2 separate regions of the Homo sapiens genome follow, and region 1 is linked to region 2. Evidence: fine-mapped QTL for protein levels in blood plasma. A gene starts in region 2. The other region holds a variant in brackets. All regions are shown on one strand. Distances are from middle to middle.

Region 1 (2,909 bases), 32 kb after region 2:
GAAATGGGACCTTTCCTTTTCCCTTAAGCCCCAGTCCTCTGCCAGTTGGCTTCCAGGGTCAGCTCAGTGGGAACACCTACACTACCCAGGTTGTATGGGAGGATGGCCAGGTCACACCCCTGCATGACAGCCCTGCCAGTACTCACACTGTTTCCCTCTTCACATACCCTTCCCTTCCTGACCTACCTGCTAAGTTCTACCTCCTCCCCAGGAAGCTTTTCTGGTGTATTCCTTTCCCACCCTGAGTCTCCATCTCCTACTTCCAAGCACCACATTTCTCCTGGTAGTCTTGTGGTAGTGGTATGTACGTGTGTGTGTGTGTGTGTGTGTGTGTGTCTTCCTCTAGCTGACTGAGCTCATTGAAAGGCGATGATTTTAATTTGTTCTCCATGATTTCTCCTACAGCGCCTAGTACATAATAGGCAAACAATAAGTATTGCTGAAATTGAGCAATTTAGTTTGGGTGGCCCCATTAAAGAAACCTAGCATAATACTCTTTGGGAGCTAAATTTTCCTGAATGCTTTCTGCCTGCTGCAGCTCAGCTGGAGCTCTGAGCGGGCTGAGGGCCTTCTGCTTGCTAGCTGTCCCACATTCCCCCATGACTGCCACCCTTAGAGGGCTACTCTCCTGCCCCAGCCGCTGCACTGGGAGGTGTACGGACTGCTGGGGCTTTGGCTCTTCGAAGACTGCAGCTCCCCCATGCTCTAGAAGAGTCAGAAGGCCTTGGGTTCCCCTCCTGCTTCTGCTCCTGGTTAGTCAAGGCTATCACTGCCTATTATGTGCTAGGCATTATAGGAGAAATCATGGAGAACGAATTCCTCACCTTCCAATGAGCTCAGTCGGCCAGAGGGAGGAAGACACACACACACACACAAACACACACACAGACACACACACACACAAACATGTGTGCGTACATACTACTGGGCTTCGTTAGCTTAGCTATAAAGTAGCTCGAAGTCGCATGCCAGTTTGCACCCTAAATGTGTTAACGTATTGGATTTGGATTAGGTTTGGTAGTCACAATGTTTGGCCAAGTGCTTGGAACTGGAAGTGACCATAGAGATCACTTCTCATGAGATAAAAGTAGATTGTTCCTTTTATTTTTATGTTATTTTATTTTTGAGGAGTCTTGCTCTGTCACCCAGGCTGGAGTGCTGTGGTGCAATCTCGGCTCACTGCAACCTCCATCTCCCGGATTCAAGTGATTCTCCTGCCTCAGCCTCCCAGGTAGCTGGGATTACAGGCGCCCACCACCACATTTGGCTAACTTTTGTATTTTTTGTAGATACAGGTTTTCACCATGTTGGCCAGGCTGGTCTTGAACTCCTGACCTCAAGTGATCCACCCACCTCGGCCTCCCAAAGTGCTGGGATTATAGGCTTGAGCCACCGCGCCCAGCTGTTTCTTTTGTTTTGGAGATGAAGTAATTCAAGACTCTCCCAGGTCATACACGCTGTGAATGGTACTGTTGGCACTCAATGCCAGATCCCCTGACTTGAACTCTGAGGCTATTTTTCTCACTCCACAATGGAAAATAGCCTGGAAGTGGGAGAGAAGAAACTCATTTCTTCATTTCTGGCAGCAGATCACCAGGACCTGTCGGGAGGAGGGGAGAAGGATGGTGCTCCTTTCTTCTGTCTACCATTGAGTTCCATTTCTCTGTTACTCTGAAATAGAAGGGAGCTCGGGAGCATTGATGGAGTCCAGC[A/G]GATTTCTTTGGAGGATGCTCTTTCCAGCCAAGAGGTGGAGGTCGCCTATATCTGCAGTGAGAGCTCCAGCCATGAGGACTACATCAGGTGGGTTTTCCACACAGGCAGTCCTTGCCTTACACAGCAGTGCAGTACTGCAAAAATGAGCAAGCAAGCTAAAACACCCTGCAAAGGAGTCAGAAGAGCCAGTGAGAAAATTACAATTGCTCTGTGACCAATCACAGAAGTGTCAAAACATTAAGAAATTCTTATTGCTGGTTATAAATATATAAGGAAGTGAAAAATAGTAAAATTAATATTTAGTATGTGTAATTTGAAACATTAGAAACATTCAGAATTAAAGTGTTTTATTTCTCTGTAAAAACCCATCGAGAGTAGTTTTCAACAGTAGTGGCCTCCTTCTTCTCACCAGACAGTTTAGGATGTGGAGCCGGCATCCTTGGCAAATTATCATACTCCCTTCTCAGTTTGGATCAGCTTCCAACGTTTTCTCCTTTGTGCTTTCAATGTCATAAAATAACGGTTGAGTTCCTTTAACCCTCAGGACCTGGCAGCTAACAGGGAAGTGCCAGCTGCCTTCCTCAGTCTAGCTTCCTTCTAGGTTCTTACAGCTGCTCCCACCATGCTGTTTCCCACGGGTAAGATGCTTCCTCTTTATCAGTCTAGCTCTAGAGTAGACAAAAACACCTCTCCTTGGCTTTCCTTAACCTTTTCTGGCACCAGAGTGTATTTCCTTAAGAAAAGTGATTCTGACATAAGTCCCATGCTTATAAATATTTGTACTCTGGTATCCACAGAATGAAATCTGAACTGCTGAGCACAGAATTGTAGGTCCTTCACAGTCAGGCCCCCAGCTACTTTTCCAACGTTATTATCCTCCACGGCCTGTAGTCCACTCCCCTGCCACACTGAAGTTTGCCGATTGAACAAAGCCCCACAAATGCCCAAGCCCCTGCATACGCTGCTCACAGTGAAATATACTCACATGTTGCACCTGGAAAATGTCTGCTCATACTTTGAGACCCAGTTCATAGGTCCTTAGTGAAATCTTTTCAGACTGCCTCAGGCAAAGCTAGCCGCTGTGGGTTTTGTAGCCTTTATAGCTACCATGTGGTGATAGGAAATTTATTTGTTAATGTGTCTTTATTTCTCCTCCACAGTAATTGGTAAATAGTACTTAGTTGAATAAATGAATG
Region 2 (2,909 bases):
TGGCTTTCTTTTTTTAAGGTCACTCTGGCTGCTTTATGGGGACAGGCTGCAGGGATATCAGGGAAGAGACCACTGTCATGACCCAGGTAGCAGATGATGGAGGCAGAGGTAAGAAGTGGTCAGGCTCTGGGTATGCTAGGGAGATCCAACCAACAGAATTTTTGGGCCCTGGAGGTGGGATGTGAGAGAAAGGTTTCTGAAACAGCAAGGTTTCTGGCCTTGACAACTGGAAGATGGAGTTGCCATCGAGATGGTGATGCTATGGGGAAGAGATCAGGGGCACAGATTTGGATGTGTTGAGATTGAAATGTATTTTAGAGATCCAAGAGGAGGTATTAAGGAGGCAGCTGGATAGAGGAGTATGGAGTTCAGGAGGCAGGTCCCGCCTGGAGATAAAAATTCAAAGCCAAGCCTTCTCTCTTTGCACTCAACAAAACCTCACTTAAACAGGCTTGTCAGGTCATGGAATACGGTACTAGAACTCTTTGTTGGGGAAAATGCCAGTCAACCTTACCCGTCAGAACGCTGCCTTTAAGATCAGAGATCTCTTTCCTTCAGCCTAATCCACCCCTCTCCCTGTTTTCTCCCCTAGCCCCACTAGGCTAGAAGCTCCCTGGCTTCTCCCACATCAGGATCCCCAACAAACCCATTCCCAGGTGGATAAGAGCCCAGGCAGTTCCCTAGACCACGTTCACTACTTCCTAGCTACCCAAGAGCAGGACATCGCAGACACCGGCCTCCTGGAATATTCCCTCCGCTCCTCACATTTACAGGAAGGACTCAGGTAAGCCTCGGCGCCAGTTCAGTCGGCCCGGGGCCACTAAATACCAATGGGATCCAGTGGGTTCTACGTGGTGAGTGGGGGGCGGATAAGAGAGATGCGACACCCCCCGGGCCTGCCCCCCCCACGCCGGGGCCAGGCACACCGTGAGGGGGCCAGGCACACCGTGAGGGGGCCCAGCCACTTCCATACGCCCTCCGGTCGGCCGGCACCCACCACCCACCCCTCGCCACCAAGCTGGGTGCAGAGAACAGGGCAGGCGCACGGACGGTTCTTACGGCCCCAGGCGCCAGACCCAGGGCACAGAGGCCAGGATCTCACGCGCGACCGCACGAGGCCGGGACCCTCCCTCCCCTTCCGTCCACTCCCTTCCCCACCGCCTCCGGTCCCCTCCCGGTCTCCGCCACCCCGCTTCGGGGCCCCCGCCCCCCAGCCGGGCAGCCAATCGGAGCTGGGATCCCGCCCCGGTCCGCAAAGCCGGTGGCGCCCGGAGGCTGCACGGAGAGCGGTGCCCGCGTCAGGTGAGGCGCGCGCGGGGAACGGGGGTCGCGCGCAGGGGAGCGGGGGTCGCGCGCGGCTTCCATAGAGCGCTAGGGCCTGAGCTCGAAGCCCCAGGCCCGCAGGAGGCCCGGGCCCGCGGCCGCCAGAGCCGGGACGCAGCCTGGGCGCCGCCTGCCCCGCCCCGCCCCGCCCGGGCCCGGAGTGAGGACGCGGTCGGAGGCCCAGCAGCGCGGGTCCCGGCAAGGGGCTTTCTCAACTACACAAAAGACAGTCTAAAAAATTAAGTCTCCATTTCGGTTAAGACTGCCCGTAGTTTCGGTTTTTATGTAGACCCAAGAGGGCAGGCTCGGCGTCCGCGTGCCGCGTAGTCCGGCGGCTCCAGGAGCGCGAGCGGCTGGGCCCGGGCGTAGCCACCGCAGGGCCGCTAGCTCGGCCGGGACCCGCCTGGGATGCCCTGGGGTCTGCTCCGCTGGGGCGAATCCTGAGGCGCCACGCGAGGCACTTGGCCTCTCCTAGCCCCGCTTTCGTTTTTGGAAACTGGAAACTATCACTTATTTCGTAGACGGTGTGAGGGTTACATGACAGTGTTCTGTAAAGTGCACTCTACATATGAAGTGCTCAGAAATATGGCTAATAATGAGGGTATTTATAAACTACTTAAATTATAAAAAGAATGAGACATCAGACTTACAGTTTTGGATACTAATTTTTTTCACTTAACGTTCATTATGTGATAGGAGTTTTCCATCCTATTATACCGCTGTGCGATCTGATCTTGGGCACGTTAACCAACCTCTTGTTGCCTCGATTTTCTCACCTGTAAAAGTGGGGGTAATCATAATGCTTACTTAGTAGGATAGCCCTGAAGAATAAGTGACTTAGCGAACATAAATAGCTTACAATAGGGTTTTCAGCATGGGAAGGATTCAGTAAATGTTAGCTGTCATCATCACCACCTACAAAGGAAGCAATACTGTGCTGAAAGTTTTTCCATCATTAATGTAATTTCTATAGTACGATTCCCAAGAAGATATTAAAATTATGGAAATAAAGGTATTGGTATATTCCTAATTATTTCCTAAAAGATTGTATTGATAAATATGCTCATCCTTCCCTTAACGGGATGCATTCCAGAAAAACAAGTCAAATGTTAGACAAAGTATCAGAAGGGAAATTCTGTAGCCAGAGAGCTAAAAATTACAATAGGGTCTCTAATTATACTTCAACTTTTTTAGGAATAATTCTCAGTGTGTTTTCCCACATTTCATATGTAATTTTTTTTTTTTTTTTTTTTTGAGACAGAGCCTCGCCCTGTCACCAGGCTGGAGTACAGTGGCGCGATCTCGGCTCACTGCAACTTCCACCTGCTGGGTTCAAGCAATTCTTCTGACCTCAGGTGATCCACCCGCCTCGGCCTCCCAAAGTGCTGGGATTATAACAGGCGTGGCATGAGTCACCGCGCCCGGCCGATCTTTACTTTTTTATTCTTTGTACCCCCTGCCTATCCAGTTAGCATGTGATTAAAGTCAAAGATTTGCCACTTTGGGCCACATCTATTAATTTTCATCTTTGTTATAATTGTATTTAGTTTTTGATCTACACTGCTTATTACTCCCAGTCATTTTTT

Evidence for each region. A credible set is the group of variants that fine-mapping cannot tell apart. PIP is the chance, under the fine-mapping model, that this variant and not a neighbour inherited with it causes the effect. Sun 2018 read protein levels with aptamers (SomaScan).
Region 1: its variant is the best candidate, but not a certain one, in a credible set for the plasma level of the BLVRA protein (Sun 2018, PIP 0.59). The variant lies in the coding sequence of BLVRA. If it changes the protein, the assay may bind it differently, which can mimic a change of level.

Annotation. Positions count from the first base shown.
Region 1 is chr7:43,789,569-43,792,477 of GRCh38, forward strand. BLVRA (biliverdin reductase A) reads left to right here. Exons shown (of 8, transcript NM_000712.4): 4 at 1,681-1,800. Among named protein-coding and RNA genes, the nearest start is that of BLVRA, 32 kb to the left of the region's middle. The variant A/G (reference allele first, on the strand shown) is at 1,713.
Region 2 is chr7:43,757,433-43,760,341 of GRCh38, forward strand. BLVRA (biliverdin reductase A) reads left to right here and starts at 1,248. Exons shown (of 8, transcript NM_000712.4): 1 at 1,248-1,302. It also overlaps the pseudogene LOC107986727. RefSeq lists silencers at 953-1,342, 1,353-1,672.